3 linked regions of the Homo sapiens genome follow. The protein of the gene in region 1 interacts with the protein of each later gene in a pairwise test. Each region holds a gene or a part of one and is shown in the gene's direction. Other genes may lie near its edges.

Region 1 (3,650 bases):
CATACCAGGCTCATTTTTGTACATTTTTTGTAGAGAGAGGGTTTTGCCATGTTGCCCAGGCTAGTCTCAAACTCCTGGCATCAAACAGTCCTCCCACTCTGGCCTCTCAAATGTTGGGATTACAGGCATGACCAGCCAATTATTTCAAGGAGTTATTTTTTTTCTTCTACTTTGGGGGAAGATGAATTATATAAGTCTCCATTTTAGGAGTATTTCTACCAAAAGAACTATTATCTTCAAATATATTTTTGGATAGTACTATAGATATACTAATTTTTTTTTAAATTTCTAGTAATTCTTTTGAAGATTTTGTATAGCTGTCCAAAGCCAATTTCTGTCTACCTAATTTCAGCAAGATTTCACTCTTTTCATGTTACTTTTGTCCCAGAACAAATTTCAAGTGCTTTCTCTTCACCTGTGCATTCTTCCCCCTGATTAGTCTCTGGCTTTGTATTACTTTCAGTCAGAGACGACTTTTTTTTTTTGAGACAGGGTCTCACTCTGTCACCCAGACTGGAATGCAGTGGCACAGACAAGGCAGCCTTGACCTTCTGGGCTCAAGCAATCTTCCTTGCCCTCAGCCTCCTGAGTAACTGGGACCACAGGCACGTTGCCACCATGCCTGGCTAATTTATTTTAATTTTTATTATTTTTGAGACAGGGTATTGCTCTGTCACCCAGGCTGGAGTGTAGTGGCATGATCAAGGCTCACTGCAGCCTTCACCTCCTGTGCTCAAGCAGTCCTCTCACCTCAGCCTCCCCATTAGCTGGGACTATAGGTCCACACCACTACACCAGGCTAATTTTTGTAATTTTTTGGTAGAGACAGGGTTTCATCGTGTTGCCTAGGCTGGTCTTGAGCTCCTGGGCTCAAGCGATTCACCTGCCTTAGCCTCCCAGGTGTGAGCCACTACACTCAGCCTTTTAAAATTTTTTACAGAGATGAGGTCTTGCTTTGTTGGCCAGGCTGGTCTAAAACTCTTGGGCTCAAGCAGTCCCCTCTCCACAGCCTCCCAAAATTCCGGGATTACAGGCGTGAACTTCGGTCATTTCCTAACTTTTACCCTTCCTAATGACACTCCAGAGCTTACCTTCTTTACTTTTGCTTCTTAAGTTAACTAATAGACAATTATTGTATGTGGATATTGCATTAAGTTGTCTTAGGATACCCTTTTCAGAGGAGGACAGCTTTTGACAAATTGCTGTCGCGGAAAAAAAAAGTATTTGGCAATTAAGAGTTGCATTTACTGAAATCTCTGTTGAGAGAGGGGAAGTTACGTTGTCTCTAAAAGAAAAACTAAAAAGAAAAGGGGAAGTTTTAGCAAAGTTGTTAAAGCCTGACACTTAAGTCATACTACCTAGTTTTGAACTCTTAGCCCCTGCCACAGACACGGCAGCCCCTTGAACCTTCCTGGGTTCAAGCGAGCCTCCTACTTCAGCCCCCTGAGTAACTGGGACCACTGGCCTGTGTCACTGTGCCTGGCTAATTTTTTTTTTTTCTCACATGGGCAATGTTGGGCAAGTTAAATCGACTTCTTTGTGCCTCAGTTTCCTCATCTGAAATGGAGATCATACTGCTATGTACCTGATACAATGTTTGTGAGGATTGAATGTGCAGAGTTCTTTTTTTCTGTTGTTGTTGTTTTGAGACGGAGTCTCACTCTGTCGCCCAGGCTGGAGTGCAGTGGCGCGATCTCGGCTCCCTGCAAGCTCCACCTCCTGGGTTCACGCCATTCTCCTGCCTTAGCCTTCTGAGTAGCTGGGACTACAGGCACCCGCCACCAGGCCAGCTAATTTTTTTGTATTTTTAGTAGAGACGGGGTTTCACCGTCTTAGCCAGGATGGTCTTGATCTCCTGATCTCGTGATCCGCCCGTCTCAGCTTCCCAAAGTGCTGGGATTACAGGCATGAGCCATCGTGCCCGGCTGAATGTGCAGAGTTCTTAAAACCGTGTCAAGAACATAAAATAGTTATTTGTTCTTTCATATAATGATGATTTTGAGGGCCTGCGGATCTTGACATGTTATCAGATTGGTCAAAAAAAGATTAAACCATAGTTGGTATTGTCCTAGTTCCTGTTACCAGAATATTCCATCTTTCATCGTTGCCTTCTCTCATAGTTTTATGTATCAAAAAGTTTATTGTAAAGCTAGGGCGGGCACGGTGTCTTGGGCTGGTAATCCCAGCACTTTGGGAGGCCAAGGCTGGCAGATCAGTTGAGGTCAGGAGTTCGAGACCAGCGTGGCCAACATGGTGAAACCCCGTCTCTACTAAAAATAAAAAATTAGCTGGATGTGGTGGTGGGTGCTTTAATTCCAGCTACTCAGGAAGCTGAGGCAGGAGAATCACTTGAACCCAAGAGGCAGAGGTTGCAGTGAGTTGAGATTGTGCCAGTGCACTCCAGCCCAGGGGACAAAGTGAGACTTGATCTCAAAAAAAAAAAAAAAAAAAAAGTTATTGTAAAGCTAGACACGGTGGTATTTGCCTACAATCCCAGCTGTTCGGGAAGCTGAGGCAGAAAGATTGCTTGGGTCCAGTAGTTTGAGTCTAACGTGGGCAAATATATGAGACTCCATCTCAAAAAAAAAATAAAAAATAAAAATAAAAAAATGTTTACTAGTTTTTTTCAGTAGCCTTTTATTATAGTAGCAGTACATGTGTATTGTAGAAATTTGGAAAATACAAGTGAAAAATAAAAACATCAAATTCCCGTCAGCCAGAGACTGCTATGAAATGTTTTGAGCACATCCTTCTTGAATGTTTTTTAAATCCTGGTATGTATATTTGTATTTTAAAATCAAAATGCATTCTTACCCATTCTCTTTTGAACCTGCTTTTTTGTAGCTAATGATCTCTAGTGTGTCCATTTCAGTAAAAATTCCATTATTAAAGTGCTTTAAAAATCGTCTCTTACAGTACTGCCACTATGTTGCTGGGCTGGTCGGAATTGGCCTTTCCCGTCTTTTCTCAGCCTCAGAGTTTGAAGACCCCTTAGTTGGTGAAGATACAGAACGTGCCAACTCTATGGGCCTGTTTTTGCAGAAAACAAACATCATCCGTGACTATCTGGAAGACCAGCAAGGAGGAAGAGAGTTCTGGCCTCAAGAGGTAACAGATTCAGGGTATTTTGGGGGAAAATAACTTTAGACATTCTCTGAAAAATCCTTTAACTCTTGTGGTTGCGGGTGACAGAAAAACAAGTCAGGCCTCCCCCAGGCAGCATAAGGGGATGTGGAAAATAGGATAGCTTGACATGAGTTTGCTTCAGGTAGACTGGCTGACTCCCAGGATTCACACCACGTAATCAGTATATTCAAGCCTTGCTGTCCTTGATTTCTTTCAGACGGTCTTTCTCCAAGTGGTGGATATGGTAACAACCCATGTGCACTAGCTTAACAAAAAGTTCTTAGGAATGGCTTTGTTCGGCCTGGCGCAGTGGCTCATGCCTGTAATCCCAACAGTTTGAGAGGCCAAGGTGGGCGGATCACCTGAGGCCAGGAGTTCGAGACCAGCCTGGCCAACATCGTGAAACCCCGTGTTTACTAAAAAATACAAAAATTAGCCGGGCGTGGTGGCAAGGGCTTGTAATCCCAGCTACCTGGGAGGCTGAGGCAGGAGAATCGCTTGAACCCAGGAAGCAGAGATTGCGG
Region 2 (3,650 bases), on another chromosome or scaffold:
CGGGGAGGGAGGCCTGCCTGGGAAGGGTCTCTACAGCAGGCGTGTTTTTGCCAGCACAGCCGTCAGGGTGAGGTCCTGGCCAGCCGGAAGGATTTCAGGATGAACACGTGCGTTCCCCACCCCAGAGGGGCCTTCATGTTGGAGCCAGAGGGCATGTCCCCCATGGAACCAGCGGGCGTTTCCCCCATGCCAGGGACCCAGAAGGGTGAGGGCTTGGATGCGGGGGGCTTGGTGGGAAGGAAGGGAGGGTCTTCTGGTTGGACTCTTGTGGGGTGCCCTGTGCTTGCCACCTCTGGTCTTGGGAGCTCCCTGTCTCTGGGTGCCTGCTCTAGTCTAGACAGGTTGGCTGGTGCTCATCCCACCCATCTGCTGTGCCTTGATTACAAGTTAACATGGTCTCAGTGCCAGAGACCTGGTGCCTGGCTCAGGGCCCTGCTGTCTCCCCCCAGCCCAAGGCCTGGAGTCTGCTGGTCTCTGCCCTCCTGCTGGCCCCTTGGAGAGGCTTGTTGAACACCGGGCAGGGACCATCTTGGAGAGGGGCTGGGCTGACCTTGTCTGATCCCTGTCTCTCCCAGACACCGGGAGGACTGAGGAGCAGCCAATGGAAGTTTCCGTGTGCAGGAGCCCTGTCCCAGCACTCGGCTTCTCCCAGGAGCCAGGTGAGAAGAGAGCTCCCCGGTGGGACTGGCAGGGCAGCCAAAGAGGGGACCAGGGAGGCAGCACCCAGTGGACAGGGCTCCAAGGGGCTGCTCTCAGCTGCCAGCCTCATGCCCCTTCTGTGGCCCATGGGAGTGAGGCCTCGCCCCGGGGAAGCAGCCACAGCCCCCGGTGAGCCTCAGCCCATCTTGGTTCACTGACTGCCCTCTGACTGCCCTCCTGGGTCTCCTCTCTGGGCAGATGTGGATGGCTGCATTTAAAGAGGAACATTTGCTAAGAAATAAAATGAACCAAGCAGAGCACAGAGCACAGGAGCACGACGAGGATGGTGCAAGGCACCCGCCAAATCCTCTGGGCTCCGTGACTAAAGCTGAGGGAGGAAGTAGCCATCAGGGTCCCTTTGGTGCCGTCTGGTCTCGGCACTCCTTGGAGCTGATCACTCTCTTGCTCCCTGCCTAGGCCCCTCTCCAGAAGGCCCGATGCCCCTGGGTGGGGGCGAGGACGAGGATGCAGAGGAGGCAGTAGAGCTTCCTGAGGCCTCGGCCCCCAAGGCCGCTCTGGAGCCCAAGGAGTCCAGGAGCCCGCAGCAGGTGGGACCCACATGGAGGCCTGCAGAACCTGAGCTGTGAACTGGCAACCCTGGCTCTGGGGCCGAGTCACCTTGCACAAGGAGGACAGTGGTATGGCCTTGGCCCCAGACCACTGGTCTGGGGCAGAAGCCCACCTGTCTTGCAGCCCGTCCTGCAACCAGCCCTTTTGAAGAGCAGCTTCTGTGTTCCTCCCCTCTCTGAGCAGAACTGATGCTCCTCAGAGTAGTGGGCTGGCGTCCAAGGATTTGAGCCCTGTCGAGCTCACGGCAACCTGGGATGGCCGCCGGTTGCCAAGGCGCCTCTCTGCAGTCGGGCTGGTAGGAGGGAGTGTCTGGAGGCCATTGCTGCCTCCCTCAACCCCCGGGGTCAACTGTACCCAGCCTAGAGCCAAGAAATCCTTCCTTTTTATTCATTAAAACAAAATCAACCTGATGCATACAGAGGAAATGTTAACGTTTCTTCACTCTAGTTGGTAGATGGCATGGATATTTGTCATATTCTATTCATTTTTCCTAGTTTTGAAGAAGAGTACCCCGTGACCACTGTTTGTGTTTTCTGTTTGTTTTTTGAGATGGAGTTTTGCTCTGTCCCCCAGGCTGGAGTGCAGTGGTGCGATCTTGGCTCACTGCAAGCTCCGCCTCCCGGGTTCACGCCATTCTCCTCCCTCAGCCTCCCAAGTAGCTGGGACTACAGGCGCCCGCCACCATGCCTGGCTAATTTTTTGTATTTTTAGTAGAGACGGGGTTTCACCATGTTGGCCAGGATGGTCTCAATCTCCTGACTTCGTGATCTGCCCGTCTTGGCCTCCCAAAGCACTGGGATTACAGGCGTGAGCCACCACGCCCGGCCCACTGTTTGTGTTTTAAAGTTTTTCTTAGGGTTTTTGTTTTAATACCCCCAGAGAGTACTAGCAGGGTTTATTTTTATCTTATTTTATTTATTTATTTTTGAGACAGGGTCTTGCTCTGTTGCCCAGGCTAGAGTGCAGTGGCCTGATCTTGGCTCATTGCAGCCTTGACTCTCTCTAGGCTCAGGTGATCCTTCCACCTCAGCCTCCCGAGTAGCTGGGACTACAGGCGTGTACCACCACACCCGGCTAATTTTTGTATTTTTTGTAGAGACGGGGTCTCACTGCATTGCCCAGGCTGGTCTTGAACTCCTGGGCTCAAGTGATCTACCCGCCTTGGCCTCTCAAAGCACTGGGATTATAGGCGTGAGCCACTGTGTCCGGTCCCTGTAGGTTTTTTTTTTTTTTTTGGACGGAGTCTTGTTCTTTTGCCCAGGCTGGAGTGCAGTGGTGTGATATCGGCTCACTGCAACCTCTGCCTCCTGGGTTCAAGCGATTCTCCTGCCTCGGCCTCCCGAGTAGGTGGGATTACAGGTGTGCGCCACCACACCCGGCTAATTTTTTTTGCATTTTTAGTAGAGGCGGGGGTTTCACCATGTTGGCCAGGCTGGTCTCAAACTCTTGACCTCGGGTGATCTGCCCGCCTTGGCCTCCCAAAGTGCTGGGATTACAGGCATGAGCCACCACGCCCGACCCTTGTAGGGTTCTTGATGTTAACCCAAGGTGGAGTTCCTGGGGTACCCAGAGCCTTGAGGGGAGAAAGAGGAGAAGTGGGGACCCTGTGACTGTCTTTGCAGAGTGCTGCCCTGCCCAGGAGGTACATGCTGCGGGAGCGGGAGGGGGCCCCAGAGCCTGCATCCTGCGTGAAGGTAGGAGTGTTGGGGCCCTGACCCCCGGCAGGGAGGGATGGGCGGATTCGAGGACTGGCTGCCTGCCCATCATGCTCTTGCTCCTGCTGGCCTGTGGTGTTCCCAGCCTGTGGCCCTTTGCACTTGCTCTCTTAAAGACCCCCTCATGCGACTCTGGGCTCCCACCCTCTCTCTAGTGTTCCCCTCTGTGATCCAGGATTTGAGTGTGGTCGGCTCTGCCCCAGGCTGTCACTGCACTTGTTGCCTGGGCTTTGGGAAGGCGGCTGTGCACCCCCTACTCCTCTGGGAGGGTGGCTGTGTACCCCCTACTCCTTTGGGAGGGTGGCTGTGAACCCCCTACTCCTCCTTTGGGAGGGTGGCTGTGCACCCCCTACTCCTCCTTTGGGAGCGCGGCTGTGTACCCCCTACTCTTCCTTTGGGAGGGTGGCTGTGCATCCCCTACTCCTTTGGGAGGGACGGCTGTGCACCCCCTACTTCTCCAGCGCCTTCTTGTGCTCTGTGCCCAGGAGACTCCAGACCCCTGGCAGAGCCTGGACCCCTTTGACTCCTTGGAGTCTAAGCCCTTCAAGAAAGGTAATTGGGTGGAAGGTACCTCCACTCAGGTACCCCTGGCTGGGTTTCCTGGGGCATGAGGTGGGGGGGTGGGAGTGGGCTTTGCACCCTGATCCCCCAGCGGCTCTAAGACAG
Region 3 (3,650 bases), on another chromosome or scaffold:
TGTTGGGGCTGGAGCTTGGAGCCAAGGGTAGTGGCCTTGCCAGTTGCCATCTGGCTGCACAAAAGTCTGTCAGCTGCATCATCATGTATGCATTTATCTGTCTTAGAACTTTTAACCAATAAGTGATTCACCAGTTCTCTAGCAGGAAATTGTAGGCCTTGGTATCTTCCTCCTTCTTTATTCCAAAGTAAAGCTGTGGCCTTTGGATTTCTAAATGGCAAGAAATGGCAATTTTGCATTATACTCTCCGTTATACTTCACACCTGTATATAAATGCTTCCAGGTATAACTTGTTCAGAATGTTCTGTGTCTTGTCAGGATTAAATTTTATTGCAAAGAATCTAAAATCTTTGTGTGTATTTTGTTTAATTTCAGGGTAGTATCCACATGCCATTCTTTGGTGGTTGGTATTTTTGGCCTGTACATTTTCTTATTCGATGAGGCTACTAAAGCTGATCCACTTTGGTAAGCTGTTTCTTTTTCTAAGATTGCCAATTTCATTTATGTTTTGATATTAATTATTTATAAGAACATCACTTACTTTAAAACAGAAAACATATTGATCGTATATGCCTTATTAAAATGCTTGTGCTCAGACATTCTAGCAAAGTGCATTTAAATGATTTATTTTAGATTTGAACACAAATGAAGGCCATTTTGCCTTAGTGTAGCAATTGTTATCCAAAACAAGGAGAATATGATGATAATTTAAACATTTTTACTGTGTTAATGAGTAAAGCCAAGTTATTGTAGTCACAGTTCTGAAGAAAAATAAATCATTATTGAGATAGGGTAGTCAACTTGGATAATATCTACTTAAGACTTTTTTGTCTCCAATTTATGTTTGACTCATTTGATATCAAAGAGATGAAATGAGAGTTACAGATGGCCATGTGATAGGAATTTAGTACCACAGGATTTGAAGCACTAATGCACTAATAATAACTGTGTTCAGTAGTAATAGGATAACATGTAAGATGGTCCTTTTAGAAAAATTTAAATGTCATTCCAATGGCAGAAATTTTGCAAACTGTTTCCTGGTGTTATATGAGAAGGCTTAGTTCAGCTTAGTTTGAGAGAGCAGGCATGTTTGAAGAAGCACTGCACTGAGATGAGGTAGTTGTGGGCTCCGGGGGATGTAGGGCAATTTAGCCTTTTCTTTTGACCACCACCATTTGACTGCAAGGACGTTTTTCTATTCATAAATATAAAATTATTCCCAGAAGAATAATATCAGTATTGATACATTTTCATTGGGATGCTGTTTTTCAAAGAGAATTAATTTATTGAATTTAATTCCATGACTAGGTTTTTAAATAGTCTACCTACAAAATTTCTAGCTTTTTAAAAATTTTCGTTTTCATTTTACTAACGTGACCATCAGCAAAATAAAACCAGTTCTTTTGGGAAGTAAATTTCATAACAAAGATTTGATTCATTGTTCAAGTTTTGCCTTATCGAACTTTAACATAATTTTTGATTTGAATTTTATGTCATGATTTACTCCAGGTCAAATTTTCCTGGTTATATTTACAGATCAAAATTTGTAAAGAAGGCACAACTTGTGCTAAATCTTTCTATTAAATATTTGTAGTCCAGCTATTTTAGTTAGTGTTACTTTCACTAGTAGTTCACTTTGTAACTATCTTACTATGTAAGATAACAGCAGTAGTTACCTTACTGCTAACACCAGTACCACATGATGCGTCACAGTTTGGCTAAACTGTCATTGTGTGTTTTGCAATTTTATTTGAAGATGACAGCTTACCATTTGAGAATCTATAGAAAGCAATTTTATTATATTTAAATCTCTATAGAAAAAAGAAGTAGCGGTCATCTACAATCTATATACTTTAAAAAGGAACCTTTTTTTTTTTTCAGGGGTGGTCCATCACTTGCAAACGTGAATATTGCTATTGCCTCAGGCTACCTCATTTCTGGTATGTGAGATGTTGTTTTATTGTCTAATTCCTTGTAAACTACTCACGGAATTATACAAAGAATATATAGTCTATGCTTTTGGTTTATTTGAGAGATAGCATTTAGGAAGCATACAGAGGAAAAAAATACCTCCCATGATGGTAGAACATGAAATGTCTTTTCATGAAATGGTTTTCTGTTTCTCACTGAAGATCAGAGTTACAGAGTGATGCCTCAAACAACTGAGGCCTGGACATTTTTTATCAGCAAGGATATGGTCCCTCTTTGTCCTAATGAGGCTCTTAAGTGTAATGACTGTGAAACTAACGAAATTTAACTTTTAGGGTCCCTCACTTGCAAGAGTTCTTGAAATGTGTTCCAGTAGTCATGGTTTTGTGTTGTTTTTGTAAAATTTGCAGAAGTAAGCTTTTTTCTTTGTTTTTCTTTTTAATAGTTATAGTTTTTGGTGGCGTCACTATTTTGAATTAGTATTTAATTGCATTCTTTTTTATTTTTAAAATATTTTTTGTACGATTTGTTTTATAAATGAGTTGGTCATTTTGTACCTTCCCTATGACCATCTTATCTCTGTTTGAATTATTGTAGTGACAAAAATCAGTCACTTAAGCTTATTTAAAATTATTTCTATTCAATAATATTTTTTGTTTATTTTAACTCTGGAAACAAGTTATTCATTTATGCTTTCAACAAATATTATATTACATATGATTAGGTTGGTACAAAAGTAATTGCAGTTTTTGTGATTAAAAATAATGGCAAAAATCACAGTTACTTTTGCACCAACCTACATGCCAGGCCTTGTGCTAGATTCTGAGGGTTTAAAGATGCTCACAACCTGGCCCTTGTCTTAGAGGAGCCACAGGAGTGTGGATGAGACAGGCATATAGGAGCAGAGATTTTATGGTAAAGTAGATAATCAGACTAACTGAGGGATGAACAAAGTGCTGTGGGCTCAGAGTGGACAGTGATGAGTTGGCAGGAGAAAGAGTTCAATACATTTGAAAAACAGTGCAACTTTCTTCTTATGTAATACCTTACTCACTTTTCTTTCTTACAGATTTGTCCATTATAATTTTGTATTGGAAAGTGATTGGTGACAAATTTTTTATAATGCATCATTGTGCGTCCCTGTATGCATACTACCTTGTACTGGTGAGTTCCAGGATTTTCTGTAGCCTAACTAGCAGACAAGATTGGGAATAGTGATGTAAAGGTGAACATAAATCTAAACATACAATTCTTAGTTTTTAAAGACCATCTCCAGATGCATTCAGGGATTGCTTTTGTGGTATGCTATCTTCTGTATTAACTAAAATAATACCTTTATGTGTGTCTGTGTTGGTGTTGGTGTGTCTGTTTGTATTCATAGATTTTGAGACAGACAAATGACCCTAATTCTTTGAATTTCCATTTAAAACCTTCAGGATTGTTGTAGCTATAGATATTTGTCTGTATTTCTAGATGCATTTATGATTTAACAGCAAAGAGTATGAGCCAGCGAAAATATTTCTTTTCTGTTTAATTCCATGTGCAATTACATATACATAATTACATTTAAGTAGGTTGGAGCAGTGGAGAAATCTTGCTCAGACTTTTTCAGAATTCCAAGACCAAGGTTAATAGAGGATTCTTCCAACAGATCTCAGGCAGTAAAGCATATTAAATTATATATCTAAAATTTCTACATATACATATGTAAACTAGCAACT

What was found.
Region 2: the proteins of FDFT1 (region 1) and NCAPH2 interact in binary tests that used the Homo sapiens proteins (3 or more experiments, as listed by UniProt).
Region 3: the proteins of FDFT1 (region 1) and TLCD4 interact in binary tests that used the Homo sapiens proteins (3 or more experiments, as listed by UniProt).

What each region holds. Positions count from the first base shown.
Region 1 is NC_000008.11:11,823,108-11,826,757, forward strand, and holds part of FDFT1 (squalene synthase), read left to right. Parts: intron 1-2,916; coding exon 2,917-3,108; intron 3,109-3,650. UniProt on the Homo sapiens protein: Catalyzes the condensation of 2 farnesyl pyrophosphate (FPP) moieties to form squalene. Proceeds in two distinct steps.
Region 2 is NC_000022.11:50,518,074-50,521,723, forward strand, and holds part of NCAPH2 (condensin-2 complex subunit H2), read left to right. Parts: intron 1-54; exon of another isoform or gene 55-59; coding exon 60-205; intron 206-575; coding exon 576-659; intron 660-1,116; coding exon 1,117-1,247; coding exon of another isoform or gene 1,248-1,286; exon of another isoform or gene 1,287-1,679; intron 1,680-2,891; coding exon 2,892-2,963; intron 2,964-3,469; coding exon 3,470-3,536; intron 3,537-3,650. UniProt on the Homo sapiens protein: Regulatory subunit of the condensin-2 complex, a complex that seems to provide chromosomes with an additional level of organization and rigidity and in establishing mitotic chromosome architecture.
Region 3 is NC_000001.11:95,148,327-95,151,976, forward strand, and holds part of TLCD4 (TLC domain-containing protein 4), read left to right. Parts: intron 1-375; coding exon 376-465; intron 466-1,881; coding exon 1,882-1,940; intron 1,941-2,998; coding exon 2,999-3,093; intron 3,094-3,650. Other genes in the region: TLCD4-RWDD3 (TMEM56-RWDD3 protein), read left to right, coding at 376-465, 1,882-1,940, 2,999-3,093.